4 separate regions of the Homo sapiens genome follow, and regions 1, 2 and 4 are each linked to region 3. The links come from fine-mapping of genetic effects on gene expression. A gene starts in region 3. Each other region holds a variant in brackets. All regions are shown on one strand. Distances are from middle to middle. Region 1 holds the start of MIR6877 (microRNA 6877). Region 2 overlaps DDX31 (DEAD-box helicase 31). Region 3 holds the start of DDX31 (DEAD-box helicase 31). Region 4 has its middle 38 kb from the start of GTF3C4.

Evidence for each region.
Region 1: its variant is fine-mapped to the expression of DDX31 in lung (GTEx, PIP above 0.99). The same link has a PIP of 0.9 or more in unexposed skin.
Region 2: its variant is fine-mapped to the expression of DDX31 in whole blood (TOPMed, PIP above 0.99).
Region 4: its variant is fine-mapped to the expression of DDX31 in amygdala (GTEx, PIP 0.97).

Annotation. Positions count from the first base shown.
Region 1 is chr9:133,050,900-133,058,997 of GRCh38, reverse strand. It overlaps GTF3C5 (general transcription factor IIIC subunit 5), which reads right to left. Exons shown (of 11, transcript NM_012087.4): 4 at 8,020-8,098; 5 at 6,834-6,938; 6 at 5,056-5,170; 7 at 4,510-4,590; 8 at 4,189-4,286; 9 at 2,904-2,986; 10 at 2,090-2,232; 11 at 495-1,184. The coding sequence ends at 1,018. It overlaps LOC124902325, which reads left to right. Exons shown (of 2, transcript XM_047424377.1): 2 at 824-917. The coding sequence ends at 917. It overlaps MIR6877 (microRNA 6877), which reads right to left and starts at 7,002; the gene lies at 6,939-7,002. The variant G/C (reference allele first, on the strand shown) is at 3,710.
Region 2 is chr9:132,610,806-132,618,907 of GRCh38, reverse strand. It overlaps DDX31 (DEAD-box helicase 31), which reads left to right. Exons shown (of 20, transcript NM_022779.9): 18 at 467-578; 19 at 6,653-6,821. Among named protein-coding and RNA genes, the nearest start is that of BARHL1, 32 kb to the right of the region's middle. RefSeq lists an enhancer at 7,351-8,083. The variant A/G (reference allele first, on the strand shown) is at 3,983.
Region 3 is chr9:132,665,924-132,674,013 of GRCh38, reverse strand. It overlaps DDX31 (DEAD-box helicase 31), which reads left to right and starts at 4,031. Exons shown (of 20, transcript NM_022779.9): 1 at 4,031-4,154. The coding sequence starts at 4,080. GTF3C4 (general transcription factor IIIC subunit 4) reads right to left here and starts at 3,550. Exons shown (of 5, transcript NM_012204.4): 1 at 3,059-3,550. The coding sequence starts at 3,415. RefSeq lists enhancers at 398-447, 3,542-3,621, 3,307-4,174 and silencers at 3,262-3,391, 3,812-3,961.
Region 4 is chr9:132,704,279-132,712,380 of GRCh38, reverse strand. No RefSeq gene overlaps it. Among named protein-coding and RNA genes, the nearest start is that of GTF3C4, 38 kb to the right of the region's middle. The variant C/T (reference allele first, on the strand shown) is at 3,469.

The DNA of each region.
Region 1 (8,098 bases), 380 kb before region 3:
AGGAGCAGGTTCAGCACCACACAGAAGCAACCAGCCAATCCAGAACAGGGCCATTCTCTGACAACTGACTGTTTCTTCAACAAATACTCGGCACGCACACAGGTTGGGAGGGAGTGCTGCTGCCGACTTGGGGAGACACAAGAGGTGCCTCAGCCAAGGGCAACATGGGGAGCGGGGCCAGGCAGGCAGGCTCGGTGGGCTCAGGACCCACTAGTTTCACACTGGGCAGCCACAGGACAGCAGGGCCCGTTTCCCATGACTTTGTCAAGAAGGTATTCATTTAGAGAAGAACTGACCCCAGGCCTGGAGTCCTCCTAGCTGCCCTCACCCAACCCGACCACATGTGAGGGGGGCACAGGCCAGCACTGCCAGCATGTCACTGAATGAATGAAGGAATGAATGAAGGAATATATGAAGGGACAAAGGGGGCCCAAGCCCCAAGGCAATAAGAAGACTCCCCTGCAGCGCCAACATTCACACCAAGAAACCAAGACTTCTCGGGAAACTGGTTTAATAAGGACAATTCCAGAGGGGCCTGGCTGTGGCCAAAGCTGTGCCAAACGGTTGGGATCCAGAGCTAAAGGCACTTCTTGCCACGTGAGACCATGGGCGAGGCTCCCCACGCTATCTCCACCACCACAGTCATGAGAGCCAAGCGAGACTGGCCTGTGGCCTGGGGCTCCACAGCTGCCCAGCTCCACCTCCGGCATTTACTGGTCTCATCCTGAGAGGCATTGGGTGCCCACTCACTGGCTGGATGCTGGGCTGGTTCATGGGTGGCAGAGCCAGGGTATACCCTTTGGGGATGTCCCTAACCCCTCAGGACCAGAGGCAGCACCAAGCAGCATGTCACAGCCAGTGCTAGGGTCAGCTGCACCCTTTGCTGGGACTCTAGCTCTCCTCAGAGGGCCTCCTAGGGCCATTCCGGGCACTGTGGGTGGCAATGGGGAGCCCCGGCTCCCTCATTAGGCCAGACACCAGTCTGGCCGGGTCAGGGAGGCCCAGCCTTGGGCCCTGTCACACGTAGTCCAGAATCTCTGTCTCCATTTCGTTTTCACTGCCGTCGGATGGCTTGAAGTCCTCCTCCTCCTCTTCCTCCTCCTCCTCATCCTCCTCGTCTTCCCCAGACTCGTACGTCAGCTGCTCTTTTCCGCCATCAGCCTTGGCTGAGCTGGAAAAGAGAGCTGGGGCCGGAGGAGACAAGGCCATGGGTGTCCCATGCAGGCTGCCGGGTGGCCCCAGAAAGGCCACCAGGCTCTGGGGAGCCTGTTTACTACTATAAGGGTCCGAGCTCGAGCTCTTAAGAAGCTGGTGGGTAAGTATGGGGTGGAGGCCCCCCAGGGAAGCTGTAGTTTGACGGGCACCCAGGGGAATCCTGCAGCAGGGGAGCCATGAGCAGCTTCAAGGGCCCATGGACCCTCAGGAGTGAACACACCATTTTCTCTGGGAAAGGGTCCACACCCTTGATTAGATTCCCAAAGGGGGCTGAATCTGGGTTCCAAGCAAGACCAAGAACCCCTGCTTCGGTCAGATCTGTGGGGCGTGGCTGGGTCCAGGATGCCTCCTCCCCAAGCCTGGGAGGAGTTCCCTGAGAGAGGGGGCCTCTTATAACTCCCCCGAGCCTCGTGAGACCCACAGCCTGGCAGGTGTTGCCCCCTTCACTTTCCCTGCAGCTGGCCCTCACTCCTGCCAGGGCTGCCTGGTTCCAGGAAGGGGCTGGGCCACACAGAACAGGAAGAAGACAGAGGCAGAGCCTGCGCATGCACAGCTGAAAGACATGGGCTGGTGTGAGGGCGTCAGGTGGAGGCCCCGATGGCAGTGCCAGGCTGCTGCACCCAGCCCCTCTGGGCTTGTCTCCTGCCCCGGACCGCAGGGCTGAGGGCCTCGGCTGAGGCAGCCTCTGGGCAGCTGGGGTGATGCCAGCACCTGGGCTGGGCTCTGGCTCACAATGTCCTCCTCCCACCAGGGCCAGGGGCAAGATGATGCCACCTGGGTGCCATTTCCCAGGAATGGGTCCCCTTAGGGACACCTCTGTCTCAAAGGAGATCACCAGGCATCCTGGACCCCCTTTACCCCAAGCGGCTCTTACCAGGCCTCTTGGAGCGGATGGTCTGCCGGATCATGAGGGACATGGTGTCCCTGAGCTCGTCGCTGGTCTTGGGGAGGCACCACCCATCCCGTTCTGTGCAGGAATTCTCTGCCCCGTCATTGCGGTGAATGATCTTCTGCAACCTGGGGGTGGGGAGAGGGTTGGGACATAAAGTCCCAGGGCGGGTCTCTGCTAAGAGATGCCAGTGTTGGTTTTTGCCAGAGGCAGAGCTGTACTGAGATCAAAGGCAGCCCCGTGAGCGAAGTCTACAGAGAGGAACTGGAAACACAAGCTGTGTGTTCCCAGCTGGGGCCCTAAACCTGTGTGCTCCCTGGACCGCCTCACACACATGAAGCTGGCCGTGTTACCACTGCACATGCTTCTGGTGAACCATGGCTTTCAGCAGAGTTCAAGATGTATTTGATGTGTTCCCATCTCCTCTCATCCCAGTGAGTGCCCTTTCCCTGCAATTCTTTAAACATCACTGAGAACAAGTCGATAAAAGGTTTCTGGGATCTGATGGGTCCTGGGATTGAGAACCACCTCATGGGGCCTTTATGTGGACAGTGGAAGAGGAGCAAGGACATAACAGTAAGAACTGTCTCTGCGCAGCTTGGAGCCACGGCTTTCTATAGGGCACCGCCTCTACGAGGGCCACCAGCATGCCAGGGCTCTCGGCAGCACCAAACTCCCAGACAGGCGAGTGCTCTTGCCGGAGATGAAGGCCGACGTGAAGTGGAAGAGTTCAGAGACCGCTTTGGTCCCTGGGTCCCACGGGCCCCCCTCAGTGTCTCAGGGCCCCTCCCATACGTACTCTTCCACATTCAAGTCGCATAACTGGTAGAACATCTGCCGATAGGGTGGCAAGGCCCCTTCCCGGAAGATGTAGACAGAGTCCTGGTGACAAAGGGGGAGAGAGACAGGGAAGGTGAGCCAGAGCCCTGGGGCTGCCAGTGTTGCAGACTCCATGTAGGCTCCCATGGGGTCTCTCCAGGGAGCTGGCTGGTCACCAGGAGCAGGTTGGGCAGACAGGCTGGAAGGCCACGGAGGAGTTGGGGAAAAAACAATGTCCAACTCCCCAGGAGGCTCTGGGAGAGGCAGAGGAGCACCCAGGCCCTCCTGGGGCCACTGGAAACGGTGAGCCCGCCCGTGCAGCAGGCCATGGCGCCCATGGCATGGGGCTGGCACTAGCCTTGTGCCGGGCTCTGCTCTCTGTGCCCTCCTGCACTCTGACCTTATCCCTCACCCACTGCTGCTAATTTGTCACCCTATGTCCCCCTATGGGCTGCCCTGACATCTTTTCTGGGAAAAGCAGGGCTTAGTGAGTGTTTGCTCTCTCCTTTCCGTACCCAGCCATGTAGTTCTAGAGTAAGGATAACGGCCTCCTAGGAGAGGCCTCGAGAAGGAAGGCCGCACAGGCTGTGGCATGATCGCCCCTCACTGGGAAGGCAGCAAAGGTCTAAAAAACCTAGAAAATAGGCAGGGCCCCAGACACTGGGGGACAGCAAGTCCCTCGCATCACCCGTCTCTGCTGCACTCATCTCTGCCACCCACTCCCTCAGCAGGTGATTCCACCGTGCGGGATGCCCCCTTCTCGGCCTCCCCCAGGGCTGTGGAGCG[G/C]CTTGCGGGAGCCTGAATGTGGGAACAGCTCTGGAAACCGCCAACCCCCGCTGGGCAACCGCACTGACGGAAACGTGAGCCAGTGAGGCTCCTGCCACAGCTGCAGCCCACATGGCCTGCTCTGGCTCTGTCCTCCTGTGTGTGCCCAATTCCGATCATTCCCGGAGTGGTCACGTGGCTCAGTGGGGGCCCAGGCTCCCAAAGGGCTCGAGAAGGACAACCACATGCAGCTGCTGGTGCCAGACTTCCCTGAGACTTGTCACCACCTCTTCGCCAGATGTCCCCAACACACACAGCCCTGGGGCTTTGCACCCGAGTTCTCACCCTCAGTGTCTGAAGGCTGACCTAAAAGGAAGCAAGGTGCCGAGGCCCCGGTGGGCAGAGCTGCCCTAATCACAGCCCCCCAGGTGTCACCCACAAGGTGCCCGGCCCCAAGAGGGAAGTCCTCCCCTCCATTCCTGGCCTCCAGGGGCGCCCACCTTGAGCTTGTACTTGCTGGAAGCTGGTTTCCGAGCACCACTCGTCCCCGACGGGCCCAGGCCCTGCTTCAGGTCATGCATGGTGACAAGCTGGCTGGCTGCGTGGGGACAACAGCAGTGCTTGGAATGTGCAGGGTGGGGAGGAGGTGTCTCTCCCAACCACCATGCCCTGCCCTCCTGCCAGCCCACCCCCTCCTAGGGGAGGAATGACCGGCAGAGCCCTGGAGTGACCCCCAGGAACCACCTCCCCGTCTGGGTCCAGGTGCCCCGCCTTCCTTGGCAAATCACTCATGACCCACAAAAGGCGCCTGGCACGCTTACATGTCTTCTTGACGGTGATGGGGAGGCTGTAGTTGTAGGTGCTGCGCTTTGCTTTGACCGGCAAGTCACTGGGGGCGTAACCTGTAGGCGAGGGCGGGCAAGTCAGGTGGGCGGGCACAGGGCCCGTCGGCACACAACACTGGCTTCACACTGGAGATGGGAGTTGGGTCCATGGGGCCAGCTCCTGAGAGGGCAACCCCAGACTGCCAAGCACGCCACTGCGGTCACCAACACATCTCAGCACTTCCCAGGCAGGGCGGGCACTGATGCTCTCACAAGTGCCTGGCCTGCATCACAGGACCATAGGGCACGTGGAGTCACTTAATGAGGGACTGTGGTTCAGAAACGGGCGGTCAGTGGTGGGGCCAGCACAGAACTAGGACTTTCGTTTCCACGCCATTCTGCATTCAAAAGAGTCTCAGCAACGGGGGCAAAAGGTTTTTTTATTCTTTCCAAATGAAAAGATTCTTACTACAAAAGAGAATGCTAGAAACTGAAAGATAAAGAGAGAGAAAGGCAGGAAGCAAAGCTTTCAGGAATTTTTACCGTGTTTCATTCCACAACGGATTCGGAAATCGAGGACTTGATAAATCTTGGCATCTGGGTTTTTTCGGGGGTCATACCCAAATCGAATCCATAGGCTGCGCCAGGGGCCTGTTATCTGGGACAGAAAAGTGGGGAAAATGTGAGGTGAGGTGAAGGCCCAGGTCCCTGGACGGGCCAGAGCCTACAGTGAGGCAGCAGAAGAGCTCAGGAGCTGGGGACAGGGCTCTGGATGCCCAGCCCTGCTCTGCCACATGCAGGCCCTGTCACCTTGGTGAGGGCACGTGGCCTTTCCAAACCTTGGTCTTCCTGTCAGATGGAGGGAAAAGGAGCACCCTTTCCTGTGGGTTTTTGTTTTTTGGGGGAGAGGGTCTCACTCTGTTGCCCAGGCTGAGTGCAGTGGCAAAATCACGGTTCACTGCAGCCTCAACCTCCTGGGCTCAAGTGATCCTCCTACCTCAGCCTCCCAAGTAGCTGGAACTACAGGCACGAGCCACCACACCCAGCTAATTTTTAATTTTTTTGTAGAGATGGGGTCTCATTATGTTGCCTAGGCTCGTCTCAAACTCCTGGATGCAAGCGATTCTCCCGCTTCAGCCTCCCGAAGTACCGGGATTCTAGGAGTGAGCCATCATGCCTGGCCTCCCATGGTTTTTCAGAGGATTAAATGAGATAGCGCCCGTGGAGCCTTTACCATGGTTCCTGGCACATATTAAGTGCCCAATGTTACTACTGGCCTAATCGATGAGACATCTTCTGTCCCTAAACGGAGCTTTTGAATGGCTTATGTCTAAAAAGCCAATGCCAGCCAGCCGCAGTGGCTCTCGCCTATAATCCCAGCATTTTGGGAGACCGAGACAGGCAGATCACTTGAGGTTAGGAGTTCGAGACCAGCCTGACCAACATGGCGAAACCCCATCTCTACTAAAAATGCAAAAAAAGAAAATTAGCTGGGCATGGTGGCGTGCGCCTGTACTCCCAGCTACTTAGGAGGCTGAGGCAGGAGAATCACTTGAATCCCAGAGGCGGAGGTTGCAGTGAGCAGAGATCACACCACTGCACTCCAGCCTGGGAGACAGAGTGAGACTCCATCTCAAAATAAATAAAATAAATAAAATAAAATAAAATGCCAACGCCAAGCAGCACAGGTCGCTCTCCTGAGCCGGAAGTCCAACAAGGCAGAAGAAATGAGTCTTTCTTGTGTCCTACTGCCTGTTGCAGACCCTCACAGTCATGTCTTACGCTGGCCTCCCCTAATGCTCTGTGAGGCCTGGCAGCGGGGAGGATCCCTTTCCAACCAGCACCTTTGGAACCTCAGTAATGACATGTGTCTTTACATGCTTGTGGATCAAAGGTGGATCTGCCTCCCACTGAACCCCACTCAACACAGGTAGAGGACGACATGGGGCCGCTGTGGTCAGGGGCTGGGTTCTGCAGCCCAACAGGCTGTGGAGGGCGCCCTGGACTCAGGGAGCTGAAACTTTTCTAGCTGGCTTTAATAAGCTGTCTTAGGGATGCTAGGATCGGGGGGCCAGGACAGGGGGGAAGGAAGGATGGGGGTGCCAGGACGGGGGAGGTGCTAGGTTGGGGGCAGGGCAGGAAGGATGAGGGCCAGGCCAGGGGTGGGTAGGAAGGATGGGCCAGGATGGGGGTGGGGCAGGAAGGATGGGGAGCCAGGATAGGGGGTTGGCTGCTCTTACTGTGGCTCTAAGACATCACAGCAGGGACCAGGGACCACATGGGTGGAAACCAAGGCAGGTGGGTGGGCAGCTGACACTTACCATGTAATAGGCTATGAAGGGAAGCAAGACCTTGAGCTTGTCTGGGTGGACGCTGATGTTGGCCTTGACAGCATTTCGGGACCAGATGGGACGGATGTCAAACAGCTGGGGAGGCCAAGGGCAGAGGCTGAGATGAGCACCAGCAGCTTCCACCCTTCGGCCCTGAACTCCCAACATGTTCTGGGCCCCAGCGGCCCCTCCAGAGAGGAGCTGGTAGAGGACAGGGGCTGGACACACAGGGCGTGGCCCTAGGACCTCCTGCTCTCACTAATTCATCCCTTCCCTCAGAAGCCTGGGCTGCATGCCCAGCCTGTGCCAAGTGCAGTTGTGGGGCTGGGTCTCTCAAACGATAAGAGACATGGTCGCTGTCCTCATAGAGCCCACAGCGCGGTGGGGAGTACGGCTCAGGGGGCACATGCTAGAGTCCCAGGGTCCCCATGCTGCCCCAATCTACAGAACAGGTGCCTGAGGTGGGACATCGTCAGGGCTGAAGGGGACAGCCTGGCCCGGGGAGGACTGCAAAGGTCAGTGTGGCCGGAGTGTAGAGGGCCAGGGGGCTGGGGCAGCGGGCCTCACGAGCCAATTCAGGTCAGGAATGTGGGCTGTGCCTGGTGGGCAATAAGGAGCCACTGACAGTGTGCCCCAGTGACTGCTGGAAATCAACAAGACATCCACGTGGTCTCCCACAGGCACACTGCGTAAGGGAAGCGCCGGGCTCCAGGTGGCAGTGGCCTGTGAACCTGATGCTCATGCCAGTGGGGACGCAGGACTCCACGGCACCCGCAAGCCCGGGGAAGGAGGGCTGCCTGGCAGCACGGTTCCAGTTCTAACGGTAAGAAAGTGCTGGGCCTGGCACACTAGGTGCCCCACTGGCTTGGCTGCAATGAGTGAATGGAAGAATAAGAGCTCAGTGGATCCCAGAGCTCCACGTTTATGTCACATCTGAACAACGCACGCATATTTTTCTTAAGAACTCTAAGAAGCATTTTCAACCTTGGGAATGTAGAACTTATACCGACACAGCCTTTAGACATGGCATCTGAAGGTGAGAAGTTCCCATGCACTAAGGAATGGGTAAAGGTCAGTGCAGCCAACCCCACAGCCAGGAACAGGGAGCAGCTGGGTAAACACGGGAAGCCAACAGAGAGGCTGGAGCCACCGGGGCCAGGCGCAGCGCAGGACTTGCCTTCCTCAGCTCCTCCTCCACCTTCCGGTCCACGGGGTTAGTGCAGACTCTCCTCCACGTCTGGGCTGCAGCCTCCAGT
Region 2 (8,102 bases), 55 kb after region 3:
CTTTTAAAAGCAGAATGTTAGGCAGGTCACTGTGGAGTGCTCATGAAGAGAAATTGTCGGTGTTCCACTGATGCGCGTGAGGGAAAGGTGAAGATTCCTAGGAGATCCAAGACCCATTTGAAAACAGCTCATGTTCAGTGATGTTTTAAATGTCTGAATTGGACTTGGAAAATTCCAAAGTGTCTCCAATGGTCTTTGATTTTGAACATGCATGGTAAGAGGTCAGGAAGAAAAGTAAGTAAATAAGTAAACAGACCTGATGTTCTCTCTCATAAAGCCACCCTCATCCTTACTTGACTTTGACATCTCTATAGCTCCCTTTTTTCCTAGTAATATTGAAAGGATTACCCTTGTTGGCCCTAGGTGGTTACTGTGTGATTTTACTGTTATTAAATCTATTATAAACTGCTTCATTATTCCTGACCTTGACTCTATCTCTCCTTTAATCCTTCCGTCGCCCTCTCAGAAATCCCATGCTGTTGGCCCCCAGGAAATCCGAGAGCGAGCCACAGTCTTGCAGACGGTATTTGAAGATTACGTGCACTCCAGTGAGAGGAGGGTCTCCTGGGCAAAGAAAGGTCAGTCGATTTCCTAGGTGCTTGCGCAGTGGATAGCCCAGCAGAGTGCTCTCCCCCACCTTCACCCACATACCCCCAAACCGGTTGAGAGGCCAACATGGAGGTCCCTGCTCACCAGCCAAAGCCTTCAATCTCCATAATTCTGCAGGGTTTGGAAGCAGGCACGGAAGGCTTTAAAGTGATATTAAATGTTAATTTCATCCTTCCCCATGTTTTGCACAAATGAGGCTTTATCTTGGCTTATATCGGGACTAGAGTTTTGACCCAACAACTTGGATCTTAAGGATCTGTTTTCCTCTTTCTTTGAAAACCAGATAGAAGACATGTGACACGTTAGTAGAAATAGTTGTAGAGATGGAAATTAGAGATGAAGGCCAGAGCTGGAAATATTAGACCTAAGCAGTTCCTATTTGAAGGCACAAAGAAAAACGAGAAAGAACAGTACTGAGGAAGAGCCATAGACCATGAACCCAATTCCTAGGAAATTTATGAAAGAGAGAGGTGTTGACTTAATATTCAGACCCTTTGTTGGATAAGTTGGCTCCTGGGATCACCATACATTAGATGTAGACTTCACAGTTCACGTTGAGTAATAAGCAGTGTATGGCTGAAGGGGGTTTGTAATCACTGGTACTTTTTATCATGGGATGTCTTGGCCAGAGACTGACCATGTCTAATGAGACTTACTCCATGCTGGAGTATGCACAGGGTTTTTTTGTTAGTTGCCTGCTATTTTGAGAAGAGTGCCAGGCTGGCTTACCAATATCGGAACACTGTAGCATCCTTTCTTTTTATAAATAGAAATGCTTTAAAAACCATTCATTTGACAAATATTTATCAAATCGGGCACTATTCTGAGTGCTTGGAATGCATGCGAGATCAAAACAAAAATCCTTGCTTTGTGAAGCCAACATGTTAGTGGGGTGCAGGGGCAGCAGACAGTGAACATAATAAACATAACAGATTAGTCCATTTAAAGGTGACAAGAGCTATGGAATAAGTAGAAGGAGATGGGGGAGGTGAAGGGGTGACATAGCAGAGTGCATTTTTAATGGGGTCAGAGTGAGCCTCATTGTGTAGGTGATACTTGAGCAAAAACCTGAAGTGGGATGAGCCCCGTGGCTCTCTAAAGGAAGGGCATTCTGGGCAGTGGGAGCTGGTGCAGACGAGCTCGAGGAAGGCAGTGTGGGTGGAAAGGGGGTGCTGGCCAAGGCAGAATCACGTAGGACTTTGGGTCTTGGTCGGAATGAAGGGGGAGCAGAAGTGTGGGATCTGACTTAGGTTTGAAAGAGATCACCTGGCTGCTGTGTGAGAATAGACTCTAGCGGGGGCAAGTGTGAAAGCTGGGAGCCTGGCTGAGGAGCAATTGTGGTCACCAGAAAATATAGATGAAAAAATGGGTTAGTCAGCAAATATTGTCAAGGACCTGTTACATACCTTTAGCACATTATAATTGCAATTCTTGGTTGTCGTTAAAAATCAGAACCACACAAGGTAAAAGATGAAGTCCCCGTAATTGCCATTGTATATCCTTCTAGACTTTTCTCTAATAATATCCTGTCTTGGCATTTCCCTAAAGGGAATTCAACAATTCCCAAGGGTTTTCCTACCTTGCTACCTCTAGAGGAGTATTGCTCTGTGTCTCTCAAGAGGAATAGGGTCTTTGTCACAGTGTAACTTTACAGTTTGGACCTTTGATGAAAGTTAGGCAAATTCAGCTGGCTGTGCAGTACATAACAAGGTGTTGTGCTGCTGAATTCCAGGGCTGGTATCAAAGTTGCAGTGGAAAGAAATAAATCAAACCCACACTGTCACCTTCGATTTTGGTGTCAGTGATGCCTCAGATATTTTGGCAAGACTACAACTATTTCAAGGTGTCTCGGTCATCTGAGTGGAAGTTACAGTAATTCTTAAAGGATGTGGTTTTGGGTTTTCTTTCACTGTTATTACCATTGAACTTGTTAATACCATGAAACAAGCAGGGTCACTTGTCTTTTGTTTAAGGAATATTGGAACAGGGTCACTTCCCAATGTTTATGTACCATGAAGGAAATAAACGTATCATGTCTCTTATTTGCTAATCAATTTCCACACCAGATTGATAATGGGCTGGGACAACACCGCCTCTTACAGAGCTCAGTCACCCCATTTCAGACATAAGTCTCGCCACCATTCCTTCTCTCCTGTTTCTTAGGACTGAGTTTTGGAGGCTTGAGAGAGTATACACGTATTTGCCACCCTAAATGTATTGAATTTACTGCATAGGAACAGCCACTGCACCCCATAGGTGGAGACACTCTTTTGCATTTCAATCTGCATATGCAAATTCCCCACTATTGACTTGCTTCCCTTTTATGCCATTTCAGAACCCACCTCCTGAATAATTAACAAAGCAGCTGGCTTTTGCCTTGATGGCAGAAAACTAGTTAGAAACTGGGCCAAGTATGTATTTGTTTTCCTTTTGCATTTTTGGACCCAGTCATTGTTAATAACCAGCATTTAACTGTCAGTTTCCAGAAGCAGTTACCCCTTTTTTCCTCTGTTTTCTTGCATCATTTAGCTAGGGATTCAAGTTGTAAAACGAGTGGTAACATAAGTTTGAATTCCAGATTCCCGAACAAAAATCTTGGAAGCTAGAGTCCTCTGCCTGCAAATGACCATTGCTTCTGTGGCTTAATCCTCTCCATCTTCAGGTCTTCCTGCAGACCAGGAACTCCATGTAGGATTTATGCCTGTTTGGAAGGGATGCTTCTCAAAGTCTAGAAAACCCACACCAGTGATGACAAGTCATTCTTCTCCCCTCAGTGGGGTCAGAGCTAGGCTGGGCACTTTACCAAATGCTTTGTCTTGAAGAGAACAGCAGGGAACCTCCTTTTCCTCCATCCTTTCCGTAGTTGTCGCTGTAGGTGTTGGGTGGTCTTGAAGATGCGTGTGCCTTTATTCTGTACTGAAGGGTGCTCTTGTGGGAGTGGAGGTGGGGTTGGGAGGAGCAGAGATGATCTTCACCTTCCAGGCTGGAGGTTTGTTTATTTCTGTCTCCTTCATCTTACAAGTCATCATAAGATACCACTAGTTTCTGATCCAAATGTCCAGGAATGAAAAAGGACGATGTGTCCATGTGAGATACTTGAAAATAGATTTGCCCTAATTCAGGCACCTTAAGTAGTTGGCAAGAAATAGGAATCAGTGACTGCAAAGTGCTGAACTCTGGTGGCCTGTAGCTTCATCCGTCACCCCAAATAAATGTCTGCTTTCATTACTTCTCCACCTTCCGCTTGTGTGGGTCCCACAGCCCCTGTTCCTTCTGCACATTCTCGACGCTGCCAACATGAGCACTTCCTGCTCCTTGAAAGGTTCTGCAGACAGCTACTGCAGCGTCTTTGAAATTCCTGCTTCTCTGAATT[A/G]TCCAAACATGGGAGTCCATGCAAGTATGTGAGAACAACCAACTGTCGCTGTCCCCGGTGAGACAGGAGCCTTGAGGACAAGGAGGTTTAGTAAAAATATGCAGTGTGAAATGCTGCCTGGCCAGTTGTCTGGGGAGAAAACACTTCCTGCCACATCTTGGCAAACTCATTATCCCTGTAAAGCTGTTAGCTGGGCACCTACATCTCCTGGGACAGATGCTCTCAGTGCTCAGCTCATAGGATTGGTGGAGAGGAGGAGAGGAAGAGAGGTGACCAGGGTGGAAGCCCAGGGACTCATCTGCATACACAGAAGAGAGGTAGGAAATGAAGAGACCTAGAGCGGGATTTGGGTAACTGAGATTTTAAAAGTGCAGGCTCTTGGCATGGTTTCGGCTTGACTTGGTTTCGGTCTTGTCTTTTTTGAGACCAGAGTGAGTGTTGGGGGTTGGGGAAAGAAAGGTTGAGGAGAAGAGGCTTGAATCTCCTGGGTCGCGTAGCAGTAGAGCCTTTCCCTCTGAGGGCTTGGCTGTGGGGCTCTGTATCTAGTGGGGCTCTGTGTACTCCAAACAGTACAGACCATTTGAAGCGTTAAAGATTTTCTTTGAAAAAGTCCCTAGTTATTAAAAAGGGGAGTAAGCACAGATTTAAGAGTAGGGTACAGAGGAGTTGCCTTGGTTATTATTGCTCATCGATTGGGAAAAGGAGTTCACTTTACTCAGTAAATAGAGCTTTGATGGATTCCCCAGGATCCTTCCAGGAGCTGATCTGCTAAAATGACACTTTTTATTACTGTTCATAAACGCCAATCTCCAGGTGCTGCTGGGATATTATGTTTAAGCTGTGGGCAAACTTGCCAGTCCAGTGGCTCAACAAGGAGAGTGAGGAAGCGAAGGCTGGCATTCAGTGCTTGCCTCCATCAGACACCATCGGCTGGGCTCTGGCTCAGCTGGCAGAAGAGCAGGATTGGAGGTGAAGAGAGCAGTGACAGGGATGGCGGGGAGTGTTTGCAGGATGTCCCCCTCCTTCCTTGTTGGAGTGAGAAGCGGGTGGACACTTGATTTTCATTGTTACTTCCAGATATTCAATCTACGAGAATCTTTCCTCAAGGGAATGCCTAGTTAAGTAGACCAAAGCTCCACCCTCCTGGGAATGAGTCTGGCCTTTTTCTCAGGGAGGAGGGACCTACAACAAGGACCCCCTTTTCTGAATTTAATTTAATTTAGTTTTCCTTGAGACAGAGTTTTGCTCTTGTTGCCCAGGCTGGAGTGCGGTGGCACCATCTCTGCTAACTCCATCCTCAGCCTTCCAGGTTCAAGTGATTCTCCTGCCTCAGCCTCCTGAGTAGCCGGGATTACAGGCACCTGCCACCACATCCGGCTAATTTTTGCATTTTTAGTAGAGACAGGGTTTCACCATGTTGGCCAGTCTGGTCTCAAACTCCTGACCTCAGGTGATCCCCCCGACTTGGCCTCCCAAAGTGCTGGGATTACAGGCTTGAGCCACCGCGCCCGGCCGCTCTTCTTAATTTTAAAACGGCACTGAAACTTTCCTGACGTAGTGTTTGATGAATGTCCCTAAATTGTTGTCAGTCCTCAAGGGACTATTTTAGAGACTTAGTAGTTTTCTTTCTCCTTTAAACATTTGTTTCATTCCCTTTTTTACACATTCTTTGAGCAAGAAGCTCTGTATTGGTTAATCCTGGATACTTTTAGAATGAACTTGGTTTTAAAATCCCATGAGGAAGGCTGGGTGAGGTTGCTCACACTTGTATTCCCAAGCACTTTGAGAGGCTGAGGCGGGAGGACCACCTGAGGTCAGGAGTTCAAGACCAGCCTGGGCAACATAGTGAAACCCTGTCTCTACAAAAATAAAAATTTAAAAATTAGCCTGTAGTCTGAGGCACAAGGATTACTTGAACCCAGGAGCTTGAGGCTACAGTGAGGTATGATCACGTCACTGCACTCTAGTCTGGACAACATAGTGAGACCCCATCTCTTTAAAAAATTTTAAATTTAAAAAGTCCAGTGAGTACACAAAAAACTGGTATCAGGGATTGCCTATGGATAAGGGAGCTGGAGGTGGGGCTTGTGGTGAAGGGGGCATTGGTGGTAATGTCATTCATTCATAGTAAACATGACAGTCATAAGACAGCCTTTTGAACTTTGTAAATTTTGTAACAGACTAGCATGCATTAACTATTCAAAAGTAAGTAAAATTTAATTAGGAAAAATGTGTTAATATAAATGTCTAATGATTTTCTCATTTTCATAAGAAAACGATGTCCTGTGTTGATCATTTCTTAGTTTCTTCACCTATTCTCTCTTTTCACTCATTTACACAACAGACATCTACCGAGTGCCTGCTGGTACCAGGTGCTGTGCTGGGCCCCACCCTGTGGGATTGTTAGGAGCTGTGTGGTCAAATCTGATATTTTATCGGGCATATTCAAGTAATAATTGTGGCCCCCTGTAGTTTTTTTCTTTTTGTTGTTTAGGAATTGAAGAAATACACAGAAGTCTAGATTTTAGTTGTTTGTATATGTTGTAATTGTCCTGCTCATGTTTCGTTGCCTGGCAAGATAAAGTACAGAAGATAACCATTAGGCCGGGCACTTTGGAGCTTGGAGACCCCGGTCCTGACAGCTTCCCTCCCCGCTCTCTTTTCTTTCAGCTCTGCAGTCCTTCATCCAAGCCTACGCCACCTACCCCAGGGAGCTGAAGCACATCTTCCACGTCCGATCCCTCCACCTTGGGCATGTGGCGAAGAGCTTCGGACTAAGAGATGCCCCCAGGAATCTTAGTGCCTTGACTAGAAAGAAGAGGAAAGCACACGTGAAAAGGTAAGATGAGCTGAATTCGTCCCGTGACGGGGCTAGAGAGCTCCGTTCACATGATGTGATGTGCTAGCTGCCATGCTCACCGCAACTCTCTTCTCACTCATACCTGCCCTTCTCCCAATAAACAAGCACTTGGAATGAGAAGAAAGCCACCTCATCTTGCAGAAATTCAGGGGTGCCTCCTTTTGGGCCCAAATGTGGTGGGGTTCATAGGGCCCAAACGTAGTCGGAGCTTCAGTTGTGCTGCGGTCCGCCCTGGAAAGCATCCGAGATGTGTATGACACATTCTGGTGTGTTCTGTGTGACGAGGCCTGGGAGCATACCTTGTTCCAGTGAGATGGAAGGGCTGAGTGCCCAGCCTCAGATTCCAGGAGCTGCTGAAGCCCAGATCTCTAACAGGCTGGCTTTGGGGTCAGTGCTGGGCTCCTTGCTGCTGAGTTGCACCTCCAGTGGTGAGCGCTCATCAAGGCAAGAGCGGTGAGCCCTTCCCCTTTCCTCCCAAAAAGAGCCCTTTCCTCCCAAAAAGAGCATGTTCAGGACTTGTCCAGAGGTCCTGGGGAGAGGAAGGAGAGGGAGGGGTATTGCCCTGTTCGAGGCTGGGCTCTGAGTCTGTTTTCCCAGTGCTGAGATGATTTCCCTCAGCATGCTACATTTGTAAAAGGCCTTCTTCCTCTCCTCAAAGACGTTCTTTTAGTACCAGCCTCAGCCCTCACAGGAGCCAGAGCGCGTGAGGCCCTGTGAGCCACTCATGTCAGAACTTTGGGGCGGATGGTCTCATTGTTTATGTGGGAACGGTCCGTTGAACAAATGTTTGGGGCACAGAGACTTTTTTTCTCACCTGTCCTGATTTCTGGGTTCAATCCCAGAACGTTGTGGATGGTTAGTTTGCATTGTTTATCCTCCCTTTTCCACGTTAATTTACAAACGCCGCAGGCTCCCCCACTGACTCTGGGAATCTGCAGGCAGAACCACTCTGAGCTGCCTGTTCCTGCCCAGTGTCCAGCTTGCCTGTTCACCGGGAAGGACCACTCTGTGCTTCCTGTTCCCACACGATGTCTGGCTTCTCCGTTCACCGGGAAGTGTCAGTTATTCCATCAGTCTTGTCAGGGCCCCGTTTCTCTAGCCTGTCACGGCAAAGACAGAGGGACCACCCAGTGGAGGGAAGTGACCATTGGTCTTGCAGTCAGGGAAGTTGGATTGAAGTCGGCTCCGTTCTGATGTGAGTTTGGGGCCTTCCCTTTTCTTAACGTCTCCGAGCCTCGATCTCAACTACACTAGGGGGAG
Region 3 (8,090 bases):
CTAACAATTGATGCACAATACAATTCGGTACACAAATATTATCAGAATTTGGAACTATACACAAATGTCTCACTAGATGAGTCACTAAATCAGTAGTCCAATGGGAAAAACAATTCTGACATTCTTAAATCACTATTTCATTGCTTTTCAGATTTATACTGTCCACCTTTATATCATACAATCTTATAAAACAGCTGATAATTAATGTCTGAACTATTACATAACTGCAGATTTTCCTGCAAATTCATAATCTAAATAACAGAATTATAGAGCAAAAGCTTCAAAGGTGTTTAGTACCTAGCTTTCTAACAGTGCTACACTAAAACTGTCATCTGCGCTGCAGACTGTCCACCATTTAGGTTAGCGCGAAGGCATGCTGCACGGCACCGAGCAGATTTAAATCCACAGACTGCCAATGGGTGGAGTCATCAAAGTGCTGACACAGACTTCTTTACATTCCTACCGTCACACCAGTTTTAACCCACAGAGGGCTCTTGTAGAACTGCAGGGTCAACTCAGCATTCATTCACTTCAATCAGTCTAAAAAGACTGCTAAATGACTGATGGTTTATGTGATGTGCATATTAAAAAAAAAACAACAGTACAGAAGGGGAAGATGTTACTAATTAATTTCATAGAAGCCATTTGTCAACTATAAGAGAGCTATATAAGGATTTCCTGTTACTAGTTAGCAGTTGTGGTAAATGTTAACTGAGGCAAAATGACAGTCAAAATTTTATCAGAATACTCATGTCCACAACCACGACATTAATCCAGACTCCTACTCCTTCATACCTGTATAACTGCATTATATTTTCTTTCTTTTTTTTTGAGACGGAGTCTGGCTCTGTCGCCCAGGCTGGAGTACAGTGGCGCAATCTTGGCTCATAGCAAGCTCCGCCTCCCGGATTCACGCCATTCTCCTGCCTCAGCCTCCCAGTAGCTAGGACTACAGGCGCCCGCCACCACGCCCGGCTAATTTTTTGTATTTTTAGTAGAAACGGGGTTTCACTGTGTTAGCCAGGATGGTCTCGATCTCCTGACCTCGTGATCCGCTCGCCTCGGCCTCCCAAAGTGCTGGGATTACAGGCGTGAGCCACCGCGCCCGGCCCAACTCATTATATTTTCACCTTGAGCATTTACAGCGTGCCAAGAACTGGGCCAAGTGATTATGTGTGTTTAATCTTCCAAAAAACCTAAACAACGCTTCATTATCCCCCTTTTATAGATAGGCCTATCTTGTGCCAAAGCCCAGTCTCTTCACTTTTATTTTACACTGATCACAACAATCATCTTCTTGCCTCTATCCAGTAATGTTCCTGAACCACAGCAGGTCACTCTATGCTAATGAAACTGTAACAGCATCTTAAAGACTTCCTAGATTGAAGCCAACTTCCTCATACCGACCTTCCAAGTCCACAAACTGGTCTCATCTTACTTTCTCGGACTCTCTAGAAGACCTACTTGAGCTCATGTACTGATCCGTCATTATACAAACAATAATTAATTATGTTCATGACTTAAACGTGTATGCACATGGGATGAATGCCTCATTCCTGCCGCCTGGAATGCCCTTTCCTTCCTTCCTCTTACAAACCAAACACTACCTTCTTTAGGACTGCTGCAGATTCACCACCAGATGACCTGCCCCATAAGTCTCTCCCCTTACTACTCCCTCCTTTCTTTACATTCTCTCTGCTAAGGTATTCGATGTCTACTATACTGACATACATACTTTCCTTGAGTTGCTGTGCGGATGAACATCCTTGGAAACAGTTAAATTCCTTTACAGCAGAAGATACACCTTTTAAATCACCTTTCTTCTGCCTCCCTCCTTTTGTATTTCTCAATTTCATAGGGTTGCATCTGTCTATCTGATTTGTTTACACTTGAACAAATGTGTTCATATCTTCTTCAAGAAGATCTTAGAGGAAGCTTAGTCATACAAGCTGACTAACAATCTAACAACAGAAAGATGTTTGAAACTTGAATTAAGTATGCTACAAAGTGATGAGGGTTATCTGCACCCTACCTATAGCTAATGACTCATATTTTCAATGGTTTTCCAAAATAAGAGTTTACGAACACATAAACATGTTCTCTATGTGCGGATACACATCTTTACAGTGCTTATCACTACCTGACAGGACCTTATCATTTGTGCTTGACTTGCCAAAGAATGTAAGCTTCATGAGGGCAGGGGTTCTGTTTTGTACACTGCTTTATTTCCAGAACATGGGGCAGCACCAAGCAGAATGGTATTCAAATATCTATTGAATGTATGAATATACACTGACAGTTCACATGTAAGCGTACACCTCTATCAAGGATATATGGAAAGTTTTTACACCTCTAAGCAACTAAAAGGAACGCTATGGCTTACTACTTGACCTTGCGCTTGAAGTTTAAGATAGGTAGTTGTTTCGAATCTTTATTTTCATTCAACATCCCAAAGATGTTTAGCTAGTAAAGAAAAACTAAAGTACAAACCCCGAGATCCAGTATTTACCCGTTTGCCCAAGGAGAGGCGAGGACCATTCATAATAAAGTCACTGAAACAATTAAGACAATGGATGGGACCAGTTTTTCTTTTCTGAAGCTAAAGAGGCGCGAGAGGAGGACACACACAGTAGACAAAGCCAGCCAAGAACCTCGGAAAGTCGGCCCCAAACAATAGCAGCAACGACAGAGGCAGGCCCCGGGTTGGATCTACAGGGGGTGGAGTCTCAGAAAGCACCATCGAGTAACCCGCTCCATGTGCGGGCCCGACGGAGGGGCGAAGGAGGGGTTCCTGGGACTCAACTCCGGGAAGCCCCCTGGGTGTGTACCTGTGTTTGCGGCGGCGGGTGACCTGGGGAAACAGGGTGCAGACAGCTGCAGAGCTTTTCTTTTTTTTTTTTTAAGCTGTGGTAACCCTGGCTGCTTAATAAATCCCCAGCGCTCGGTGCGAAGAGGGAAATCCCCGGACAGAGTGTGGGATCGGATTCCCCTGGGACGGATGATGCGGCCGCGAGAGGGGGACAGGGGAAGACCCCAGGGATGGCGGGGGATGACTTACTTTGAGGAGACAGCTGTTGAGCGGTGCGGGCACCGAGGTGCGGTGGATAACCAGGTCCTGGCCCGGGTTGTGCACGTCGCAGATGAGCTCCAGCACAGCGATGCTGCGGGCCGTGGACACAGACACGCGGTGGTCCTCGGACCAAGCCAGCGGTTCCAGGCCGCTCACCGCATACTGCAGCTTCACGGCCGGCTCCCGCCGAGTCACCATGAGGCGGAATGCAGCGCTGGGCCCCGGGGCCGCGTCCGCTGCTGGCTCCTTCCCGCCCGCCTCGCCGCCCCCCTCTCCCTCCTCCTCCCCAGACGGCGCAGGCCCGTCGTCCGCGGGCCCCACCCGGGCCTGGTCGGCCGTGTTCATCTTCTCTCAGGTGCAGAGGTCGGACGCCCTGGCGCTCCACGCAGTCGCGCGACCACCTCCCGGACCGCCGCCGCCACCCCCAGCGCCCTCCGCGGCGGTTTTCTCCCCTCAGGCCCCGAGCGCCGCCGAGCCAAGAAGGACCCCGCCGTTGCCAGGCAACGCGGCCCTACCAGGTGGCCAAGGAACTGCCTGTCCAGAAAAAGGACAGCGAGCGGGGAGCCCCGAGGACCCCCTTTTCCCTGCCCAGGGATTGAGCTCCAGAGCCTGTTAGGGAGCTACCCAGACAGGCTTTAGTTCCTAAAGTGCTGAGGAAACGCACGGGGCGGTAAAGGGGAGGCTCGTCGGTGAGATGGCGCCGGATCTCGCTTCTCAGAGGCATTCAGAGAGCTTCCCCAGCGTGAACTCTCGGCCGAATGTAATTTTGCCAGGCCGCGAGGGACGCAGAGAGGGGCTGCCACCAGGCGGGGGCACGCGCGGTAGTCTTGTCCCTACCCGCCCGGTGCCGCCGTCCCCGGCTCCCCTCGGGACGAGTCCGTACAGCTGGAGCCGTTCCGGACCCGGAAGGGGCGGTGGCGCAGGGTCCTCGCGCGTCCCACGTGGGGTCCCGGGCCCAGCAGTCTGCGCACCGGGCTCGCTGCTGCACCACGCGTCACCCACGCAGACCATGGCAGCCGCCGACGGTTCGCTCTTCGACAACCCCAGGACGTTCTCCAGACGTCCCCCAGCCCAGGCGAGTCGGGTGAGTTCTGACCCGGCTTCAGCTCCGTCCCCACCCGCGGCCCGGCTGTGGGCGCGCCGCGAGCTGCAGCCGTGCCTTGGAGTCGGGTTTCGAGTCATTCACGGAGTTAAGCGGGAGAAAGACACCGGGCAGCTTCGGGACAAGTTGCGCCGAAACACGTGTCTCTAACCGGAACACCACCCGCAGGGATGCGCCTGGAAGCGGGGAGTGGAGCGGTGTGGAGGGGCGGGGAGCTGGCTCCTGCGCCTAGAAAAGTAAAGGAAGGAATTAGAGGCTGTTTCCCGTGGAAGGTAGGACCTGAAGTTCCGGCGCAAGTCCCAGGCCAAAGCTTAACTTCTCTAAGCCAGTTTCCTCGACTGAGTGCGGACTAAGCTCTGATTTTTTTTTTTATCTTGCCCACATTCCTGTCTGGGAAGAGTCATGCCCTACAAACCATAAATTCTCATCAGATGGCTTTCATTTAACCCTATATATCGTGACTTACTTTCCAAACTGGCTCTGGCCTAACATTATGTGACAAAGAAGAAAGTTAAAATATTACCCCTAAACATGTTTCTTTGCCACATTTTGAAATGGCTTTGCAAAGCTGTTCTTTGGGGGGGGCGGGCGGGGTGGACATTTGCATCTGCAAAGAATCTCTATTAACATAGCTAGATCTTTTTCTTCCAGGCCCTCCCAATCCTAAAGAGATTAAGAGTCTACCACCTTTCAAAGATCTGAATAGGAAACACTTGTCTGTTGTCTCTAAGGGCAGCCACTAAAGACTTGAAAAGAACCTTGGTCTCCACAATCTTTTATCTTAACCTGAGCATTTTCTTTGTATCCATCCCAGGTGTTTAGACAAACTCAACCGTCAACTAGAAAATGTTTAAATTTACCTATAGCCTGGAAGCCCCCGCTTTGAGTTGTCCCACCTTTCTGGACAAAACCAGTGTATTTCTGAAATGTATTTGATGTCTCATGCCTCTCTAGAATGTATAAAACCAAGCCGCGGCCGGGCGCGGTGGCTCACGCCTGTAATCCCAGCACTTTGGGAGGCCGAGGCAGGCGGATCACGAGGTCAGGAGATCGAGACCATCCTGGCTAACAAGATGAAACCCCCGTCTCTACTAAAAATACAAAAAATTAGCTGGGCGTGGTGGTGGGCGCCTGTAGTCCCAGCTACTCGGGAGGCTGAGGCAGGAGAATGGCGTGAACCCAGGAGGCGGAGCTTGCAGTGAGCCGAGATCATGCCATTGCACTCCAGCCTGGGCAACAGAACGAGACTCCGTCTCAAAAAAAAAAAAAAAAGCTGCACCCCGACCACCTTGGGCACATGTTCTCAGGACCTCTCGAGGGCTGGATCATGGGCCATGGTCACTCATACTTGGCTCAGAATAAGTCTCTTCAGATATTTTTGAGTTTAACTCTTTTGGTCGCCATGAGGAAGGTTCGTTTGTTTCAGGAATGAGGACTGGCAACTAGGAGTTTTTTTGAAGAGCTTTCAAAAATGGGACAGATTTTCATCCCCATGCAATGGAGGGGGATAGGAAAATCGGTTTCATTGATATAATCCCATTGCTAGAGAGGGGTAAGATGCCCTAGAATTAACTTAAGCAGTAACTGAAAACTGGTTTCTAGGATAGTTGATTTGTCTCTTAGAAAAGAGGACTACAGGACAGAAAGACTGATTAAAATCATAAAGTGATCATCAAACTTTAGGATTTAGATGTTTGGCAGTAAGGAGTCCAGCTAGCCAAGTGTAGCTGCATCTGGGTGGAGCGGGGAGAAGGATAGAAGAGCCACTGGGAGCATGGGATTTGGAATAGGATACACTTGGGATTCGGATGCTGCCCTTGCTGCACACTAGCTCTGTGACCTTGGAGCAAGTCACTTAATCTTTCTGATTCTCACTTTTCCTATCTATAAAATGAGAACAATAATTTCTACTCCATAGAAGACTATTGTAAGGATTCATTGAGATAGTATACATGAAGACTATACGTTGTCTGGCCCATAGAAGCACTTAATAAATGCCAACAGTATAAAGTAGTTTTGGCTCCATTTTGGATAATAGATTGCTACATCAGGAGGTCAGTGGGGTGCTTGTGTCCTCTGCAGAGCCTGGTAACTAACACATAAGAAGCATTGAGTAAATACATATAGGCTACCTAGTTTTATGGTTATCAAAAGGGGATTAATTAATGCAGTGATGACAGGTGTCTGCGGTGGCCTTGTCTAGATCTACGTTTTTTGTTTTGTTTTGTTTTGTTTTTTTGAGATGGAGTCTCGCTCTGTCTCCCAGGCTGGAGTGCAGTGGCGCGATCTCTGCTCACTGCAAGCTCTGCCTCCTGAGTTCACACCATTCTCCTGCCTCAGCCTCTTGAGTAGCTGGGACTACAGGTGCCCACCACCACACCCGGCTAATTTTTTTGAATTTTTAATAGAGATGGGGTTTCACTGTGTGTTAGCCAGGATGGTCTCCATCTCCCGACCTTGTGATCTGCCCACCTCGGCCTCCCACAGTGCTGGGATTACAGGCGTGAGCCAGCCAGGCCTAGATCTACATTTTCATTGATGTCGTGAATGAGAATGATGGATATGCTGATGAGACTTGCCAGTAGCCTGAACTTGAGATGGGTAGCTAATATACTGGATTTAGAAAGACTAACAGCTTAAATTATGCTGTATCTAACACTATGCAGAAATTTTCTCTCTAAAAATACTTTCTGGGCTGGGCGAGGTGGCTCACACCTGTAATCTCATCACTTTGGGAGGCCGAGGCAGGCAGATCACTTGAGGTCAGGAGTTGGAGACCAGCCTGGCCAACACGGTGAAACCCCATCTCTACTAAAAATACAAAAAAAAGGCTTGGCGCAGTGGCTCACGCCTGTAATCCCAGCACTTTGGGAGGCCGAGGCCGGTGGATCACGAGGTCAGGAGATCGAGACCATCCTGGCTAACACAGTGAAACCCCGTCTCTATTAAAAATACAAAAAATTAGCCGGGTGTGGTGGCTGGTGGTGGGTGACTATAGTCCAAGCCACTCGGGAGGCTGAGGCAGGACAATGCTGTGAACCCAGGAGGCGGAGCTTGCAGTGAGCCGAGATTGCGCCACTGCACTCCAGCCTGGGCGACAGAGCGAGACTCTGTCTCAAAAAAAAAAAACAAAAACAAAAAACAAACACAAAAATAGCTGGGTGTGGTGGTGGGTGCCTGTGATCCCAGCCACTCGGGAGGCTGAGGCACGAGAATCACTTGAACCCAGGAACCAGTGGAGGTTGCAGTGAGCAGAGATCACTGCACTCCAGCTGGGGTGACAGTGTGAGACTGTCTCAAAACAAAAGCAAAACAAAAAAAAATTTCTGATATTAATACAAATTTATTATAGAAAATTAGGAAAAAAGATTTTTAAAAACCCACTCATAATTGCCATACTCAGACAATGCTTGTTGCCATTTTGGTGTATGTCCTTTTAGAGAACAACTCAAAATTGGAATCACTACACATGATGTTTTCTTTTTTTTTTTTAACTTATCAAAAATTAAGAATTATTATGAAGCTCTATTTCTTCAGACAGTCTGGAATAAGGTGCAAAACTGTACAAATTGACCAGCAAAGGAGAAAAGAGAGCCCAGAAGCAGACCAATACAAAAATGGAAATTTTATTCATGACCGAGATGACACTGCAAATTGCTTAGGAAAAGCTGACATTTTTAATAAGTGGCACTGGAACAATTGGTTGTGTGGTTGTGTGAATTTAAAAACTGAAATTGGAACCTTATCTCGCACTATGTATAAAAAACCAAATCCATGTGGATTAAGACTATACAAGGCAAAACTATAATGTTGAGCAGAAAGAGTAAGTTTCCAGCATACACATGTTTTCTAAAGCAAAGAGGATGCAGTTAATAAAAGGGATTATAGTATTGTTGTGAGGCCTCTAGAATGTAGAAT
Region 4 (8,102 bases), 38 kb before region 3:
TTTGCAAATACTTTCTCCCGTTCCGTGGGTTGTCTTTTCACTTTCTTGATGATGCTGTTTGTAGTACAAAAGTTTTTAATTTGGATTGAGTCCAACATATCTATTTTTTCTGTCACGTGTACATTTGGTGTCTACAAAGGCTTTGCCTAACCCAGAGTCACAAAGATTTGCTCCTATGTTTTCTTCAGAGTTGTATAGTTCTAGCCTTACATGTAGGTCTGTGGTCCATTATGAGTTAACCTTTCTGTATGGTGTGAGGATGGAGTCCAGCTTCATTCTTTTGCATATGGGTATTCTAGCCACTCAAAGCATGTAATTTTGTCTCTGAGCAGCTCTCCAGGAGAGGCTGTCCCTAGGGCAATAGCTCAGCAGGTAAGAATTATCTGGAATGCTTGTTTAAAAAATAAGACTCAGGTCGGGCGTGGTGGCTCATGCCTGTAATCCCAACACTTTGGGAGGCTGAGGTGGGCAGATCACGAGATCAGGAGTTCAAGACCAGTCTGGCCAACATAGTGAAACCCCATCTCTACTAAAAATACAAAAAATTAGCCAGGCATGGTGGTGTGCGCCTGTAATCCCAGCTACTCAGGAGGCTGAGGCAGGAGAATCACGTGAACCCGGGAGGCGGAGTTTGCAGTGAGCTGAGATTACGCCATTGCACTCCGGCCTGGGTGACAGTGCAAGACTTTGTCTCAAAAATAAATAAATAAATAAAAAATAAAAAAGACTCAGCTGGGCACAGTGGCTCACACCTGTAATCCCAGCACTTTGGAAGGCCGAGGTGGGCAGATTACCTGAGATCAGGAGTTCGAGACCAGCCTGGCAGTATGGTGAAACTCTGTCTCTACAAAAATACAAAAAAAAAATTAGCCGGGCATGATGGCAGGTGCCTGTAATCCCAGCTACTCGGGAGGCTGAGACAGGAGAATCACTTAAACCTAGGAGGTGGAGGTTGCAGTGAGCTGAGATGGCACCATTGCACTCCAGCCTAGGCAACTCTGTCTTAAAATAAATAAATAAATAAATAAATAAATAAATAAATTTTAAATAAATTAAATAAAAAATAAGACTCCTGGGCTCTATCCCCAGAGATTCTGATTTAACAAGTTCAGGGCGGGGCCTGGAAATCTGTTTTTGTAGCAAACATCCCACCGTTGATCAAGTGTCTGCGGACCTGAACTTTGAGGATCTTTGCCTTTTGTGGAGGATGCTTATAGTTAGAACATGAAAATTCAAACATGGCTGAGCATGGTGGCTCACACCTGTAATTCCAGCACTTTGGGAGGCCAAGGCACATGGATCACTTGAGGCCAGGAGTTCAAGACCAGCCTGGCCAACATAGCAAAGCCCTGTCTCTATAAAAAATACAAAAATTAGCCAAATGTTGTGGCATGTGCCTGTAGTTCCAGCTACTCAGGAGGCTAAGGCAGAGAATTGCTTGAACCTGGGAGGCGGAGGTTGCAGTGAGCCGAGATTGTGCCACTGCACTCCAGCCTGGCCAACAGAGCGAGACTGTCAGAAGGGAAGGGGAAGGGGGAAGGAAGGAAGAAAGAAAGAAAATTCAAAAGTAACTGGTGACTTCCAGTTCTGACAACCTGCAGCTTAGAGATCCTGATTATGCCTCTTAAAACAAACCCCTAAAAATTCTGAATGAAATATGGTGACAGGGCTGGGGGCTGGTAACTATAACTGAGCTAGCAGGAAACATTCAGGGCCAAAAAGGACATGAACGCAGGAATCCAGACAGACGGGTGAAGGCTGAAGCCGGAGTTGCCGTACAAGTGTGTGTTGAGCCTGATGGCCCAGATCTTCAGTTAAAATTGTCCACACATGGAACACTGGAGGCAAAGCGCAGAGTCCCCCCACCCACCCAGGGAAGAAAGAGAGACTGGGAGGAAAGATTTGCAATGCATTTACCCAAACAGTATTAGTGTCCAGAATATGTGCACAACTCCTAAATATTACCAAGTCAAAAGCATTCAAATAAACAAATGGAAACATACACGAACAGGTATTTAACAGGAGAAAACACAAATGGTCAATTAACTACACAAAAAACGCTTAACCTCATTGGCGATCCAAGTTTTGCAAATTAAAAGTCACAATGAGATATGCCTGCACACCCACCACCAGAATTTAAAAGGATTGACAATACCAAGTGTTGGAGGGAACGTACAGCAGTGGGAACTCTTGTACAGTGCTGGTGGGAGTGGAAATTGGCTTAACTGCTTTGGAAAACTGTTAAGAAATTATCTGCCAAGGCTAAACATGCCTACCTTGTGACCCAGCAATTCCTCTCCTAGCATATACAAAACGAGTGCATAAGTATAGAAAGGGACATGAATAAGAATGTTAAAAGCAGTTTAATTCATGTTAGCCCCAAACTGGAAATGGCACAAGTGTCTATCAATTATGGTTTATTCATGCTATAAACTATTACATGACAATAAAAAACTCCTGATAAATGCCTCAATAGGGATGAATCTCGCAACCAGACACAAAAGAGCACACACTTTATGATTTGATTTATATGAGGTTCAAGAACAGATCAAACTAAGCACTGTTAATAGCAATCATCTCTAAGAGGGACATGCCTGAGAAGGGGCACAAGGACTCTAGGGTGATGTAAAGGTTCTGTATCGATCCAGGTAGCGGTTACACTCAAATCCTAAGCTGTGCACTTAAGTTTGTGGCCTTTATTGTACATGGTATATGTTAATGAAACCACTGAATACATTTGAGACAGGCTTAAGTAGCAATACACACACACATACACACACAACTGAAGAGAAAAATATTTAAAAGACATGAATGGGATTTTTGGTGTGTTTTAGAGGTGGTTTCGCTCTGTCACCCAGGCTGGAGTACAGTGGTGTGATCATAGCTCACTGCAGCCTCAAACTCCTGGGCTCACGTGCTTCTCCTGCCTTAGCCTCCCAAGCAGCTGGGAATACAGGTATGCACCACTGCACCCAACTATTTTTTTTTAAGAGATGGGGTCTTAAACACCTGGGATCAAGTGATCCTCCCACCTTAGCCTCCCAAAGGGCTGGGATTACAGGCGTGAGCCACTGCACCTGGCCCATGAATGGGCATTTTACAGAAGAAAACATGATTAGCCAATAAAATACATGACAAAAGCTCCACGTCATTAGTAATCAGGGAAATGCAGGTTCTAATGAGATACTGGTACTGCTCTGAGACTGGCAACAATTTGACAAATCTGGCCGCTTCTACTATTGACAGAATGGGGAGCAAGGGGAACTCATGAAGACTGTGATGAGGTGGACCAGGCACCACCACTCTAGGAGACAATCGGCGTCATCTGGTGAAGTGCAGCTGCGTGCCCTGGGAACGGGCCAGCCACGAGACGCCGCAGGTGCGCTACGGTGTGCGTCAGCGGCACCAGAGGAGCTCCTTCAGCCTGCAGATTTTGAGGCCCCCAGATTCTTGCCTTCCACGTGCAGA[C/T]GGGCCGAGGCACCACTTTGAGAAACAGTTTCCAAGGATGAAGCTGCAAGCAAGGAGGGGCATGGAGCCGAGGGACTCGCCGGGGGTCCCAGCTGGAGTCCCTGGATTGACTCGCCGCTACCTCTTGTACTTCCCCGGGGTGTTCCAGGGGCTCTCGGAGCGCCGTATTGAAATCGATGTCCTCGGTGAGGATCCTAAGCGGGGGACCCAGGGTGGTAGATGTTACGTTTTCTCGAGAAAGAACGTCAGAGATGTTCCTAATATTGTCGAAAGCCTCCCTCTTATCCCCAGTTTCCTTCGCATGTTTTAGGAGAAAAGAGGGAAGGGAGGAAAAGGGAACAAAACCTGAAGACGGACACACAACCACCTCTGTCGTTAGCTGTGGAGGGCTGGGCTGTGGTCCTGGTGGGAACATGGCCCTTCAGCACCTGGGGAGAGGAGCTCGGAGTTCTGGGCTTTCCTCTTCCTTTAAAAGCTGTGTTGGAGGAGTCTGGTCTGTGGTGAAACTAAGCATCCCGGTTTGCCTGGGACCGAGGGAGCTCCCAGACATGGGCATTCCACTTTTCAAAGCAGGCCGGTTCTGGGAGAGCCAGGATGAGTTGGTCACACCCTGCCAGTGTGAGCGGATCCTGGAACCACAGGCCAGCTACTTTCAGGGTGGAGACATGCAGCCAAGCCTGGGGCAGGGCACCGTTGCGGTCCTCTACGTACATGGATGCTAGAGGAAGAAGAAGGGAGGAAGGAAGGAAAAGGCAGCAGATCCACAAGCCCCTGCCTTCTGCAGGCTCCCTCCAGCGCCCGCTTTTTCTTTCTTTCTTTCTTTCTTTTTTTTTTTTTTTTTTGAGACGGTGTCTCACTCTGTCCCCAGGCTGGAGTGCAGTGACGCGATCTCGGCTCACTGCAACCTCCGCCTCCCGGGTTCAATAAATTCTCCGGCCTCAGCCTCCCGAATAGCTGAGATTACAGGCACCCACCACCACACCCAAGTAATTTTTGTATTTTTAGTAGAGACGGGGTTTCATTCACCATGTTGGCCAGGCTGGTCTTGAACTCCTGACCTCGTGATCCGCCCGCCTTGGCCTCCCAAAGTGCTGGGATTACAGGTAAGAACCACCGCACCTGGCCTGAGCACCCTCTTTTGACAAAGCTGAATATCGTGCCCACAGCCAAGAAGGATGGAGTCCAGCCAATGACAGCAGGTGGGGACTGAAGGGTGAATCTGGAGCTAAGTTAATCAATCAGTAAGCGGCTCATGTGTATTATTGATTTGTTCCTTTTTGTAGCTGAGCCACACACCGTTGTGTAGCTATTCTACATTTTGTTTCTATAGTCACCTATTGATGGATACTTGAGTTGTTTTTAGGTTTTGAGTATTGTGACTAAAACTGCTATGAATATTTGCACAATTTATTTTTGAGTATTCGTTTTGGATCCAGAAACCTTGCTAATGTCTCTTAATGCTAATAACTTATCAGTCGATTCTTTTATACTTTTTTCATACCCAATCATATTTTTTGTTTGTTTGTGACAGGGTCTCGCTCTGTCGCCCAGGCTGGAGTGCAATGGTGCCACTGTAGCTCACTGCAGCCTGAGCTCCTGGACTCAAGTGACCCTCCACCTCAGCCTCTCAAGTAGCTGGGACTACAGGTATGGACCACTATGCCTGGCTAATTTTTTTTTTTTTTTTTTTTTTTTGTGGAGATAGGATCTCCCTATGTTGCCCAGGCTACATATCATATTGACTGAGAATACGATATCTTTTTTCCAATTTTTTTTTTCTTTTTCCTAAGAGACAGGGTCTCGCTCAGTCTCCCAGGCTGGAGGGAGGTGGTGTGATCATGGTTCACTGCAGCCTCAAACTCCTGGCCTCAAGTGATGCTCCTGCCTCAGTCTCACAAAGCACTGGGATTACAGGTATGAGCCACGATGCCTGGCCCTTTTCCCCCAATCTTTATACCTTTCTCTCTCTCGCCTTATTGGAATGACCAGGACCTATAGTGCAATGTCGAGTAGAATAGATGTGTCTAGCTCCACTGGGTCTTCTGGGTAACATGGCCCAAGTGACAGGCCAGCTTGCATCCCAGCCTGGACCTGGAGTCCTCTCTTGCTACGGACCTCACACAAAGCTACCAGCCTTTTGAGTTATTCAGTAAGTGAGCCGGAGCTGGGTCCCTGGTAGAGGCTGCCAGAAGCTCTTTGCCTCTTTCTCAGTGGTAGGAAGTAAAAGGTGCAAGAACTTGTTTTTTGCCTTAAGGACAATGCCATGGCATGCCTTGGACCACTGGATCCATAAAAACTTCATTGTGATTACAGGACCCAGAATCATTGTAGTATTTTTCATCGACTTTCTGGCACACATATGCCCCACATTCAAGCAGTTGCCACTTTCCTGTTTCCCAAGTCCAGTTAGGATGCTGCCGTCGACATAACAGAGCAGCATGATGTTTTGTGGAGCGGAAAGACAAATGTCTTTGGATTATATTGTAATGAAGAGCAGACGAGTTTGGGTGGGGAAGAAATCGAGATCCAAAGGAACATACCCATTTATAAATATATGATCAACAAATGTAATTACTGATCAACAAAAAAATACCCTGAATGCCAGCAAGTGGCTAATGAGTTGTAGTGGATTTTTAGCTCTATTCAAGTGGAATCAAGAGGAGCTACAGTTGTTATACATCCTAGTTTCAGTAGCAGATATTGAATTTGCGTCAGTAGTTGTGTTGAGCTTGCTCTGACATCCTGTGTTTCTTTATATATTTATTTATTTATGAGACAGAGTCTCACTCCATTACCCGGGCTGGAGTGCAGTGGCACGATCTCACTGTAACCTCCACCTCCTGGGTTCAAGCAATTCTCCTGCCTCAGCTGCCTGAGTATCTGGGATTACAGGCATGCACCACCACCACACCTGGCTGATTTTTGCATTTTTAGTAAAGATGAGGTTTCACCATGTTGGCCAGGCTGGTCTTGAACTCCTGATCTCAAGTGATCTCCCCACCTTGACCTCCCAAAATGCTGGGATTACAGGTGTGAGCCACCGCGTCCAGCCTGACTGTCATAATTCTTTATCACGCTGGCTCTGACATTTTGGTCTTCATGCTGCATTACCAGTGCCTCTTATAGTCGCCCCTGCAGTGTGTCTGGTACATCCTATAACATCCCCCAGCAGGGTCAGGTTAGCCTCAGTTTCTTCACACAAGTTAACAGAACCCTGGGGCAAGACAGCAAATGTGAATTTCAGTCTTTCCTAGGAGATTGCAAACTGTTTTTGATCCTGTTCTCTGATGGGGATTGAAAATAATGCCTTTGCCTCATCAATGCAGCACACATCAGTTGCCAGGGCTGTGGGTATACTCTGGTGAAGACCTTATGTCTGGCACAACAGCTGCAGGTGGGGCCCCGGCTTGATTGCATTTATGGTAGCCCCCCTCCTCTGTCAGATCCGTCAGGTTGGACAGGGACCAGCCTGGCACATTAAGCAGGGATGTGACGGAGGCCACCACCTCCCCGATCTTTAAATCTTTGCAGGTGACATTGATCTTTAGGATTCCACCTGAGTTACAGCATTGCTCTGTTTTATTTATTCATTTTATTTTTTGAGACAGAGTTTCACTCTCATCACCCAGGCTGGAGTGCAGTGGTGCAATCTCGGCTCACTGCAACCTCCGCCTCCCAGGTTCAAGCAATTCTCCTGCCTCAGCCTCCCAAGTAGCTGGGACTACAGGTGTGCACCACCACACCCCGCTAATTTTCATATTTTTAGTAGAGATGGGGTTTTGCCATGTTGGCCAGGCTGGTCTCAATACTCTTCACGTCAGGTGATCCGCCCACCTCTGCCTCCCAAATTACTGGGATGACAGGCATGAGTCACCATGCCCGGCCTGCTCTGTTTTACTATCTTGGCTGTGGCAGAAGTTTTAGGAGCTTCCACTTGGCCCTTTCTCCACAGGTGAGAGAACCAGAATCCTGACTATGATAGTATCACATCAGAAGCATCAGACTTCTATAAATTTCATGTAGTCTTTAGAATACTCCCATTAATAACACATCCATACAAACATCACTTTAGAAAAAATTTAATGTAACCAAAATTATGACTGATAAAATCAGATTTTGTGATTTTATATAATTTTTGGAACATTTACATCAATAATACACCAATAAATATAACTGAAAGAAGATCTAGTTTCACTATCATTTGACAATGACCACATCAGCTTAATCATTTAGCATCTCTACAAGATAAGAAATACATCCTTTGAGGCTCTCCAGGGGCCCAACTGGAAAATCCCAAAGTTAACTTTAGGTCAGTAAGACTTAATTTAGAATTTTGATCCTGGGGAAACCTGTCAAAGATGTCAAAAAGTTTGAAATACTTGATCAAAACAGAATCACAGGTCACTGTAAAATAATAGTCATTTACTTAACCAGAGTGATAATTAAAAGAGTTCCAAAGCAACATAGAAAGTTAAATGGATGGAGGCTGGGTGCAGTGGCTCATGCCTGTAATCCCAGCACTTTGGGAGGCCAAGGTGGGCAGATCACTTGAGGTCAGGAGTTTGAGACCAGCCTGGTCAACATAGTGAAACCCCATCTCTACTTAAAATACAAAAATTAGCCAGGTGTGGTGA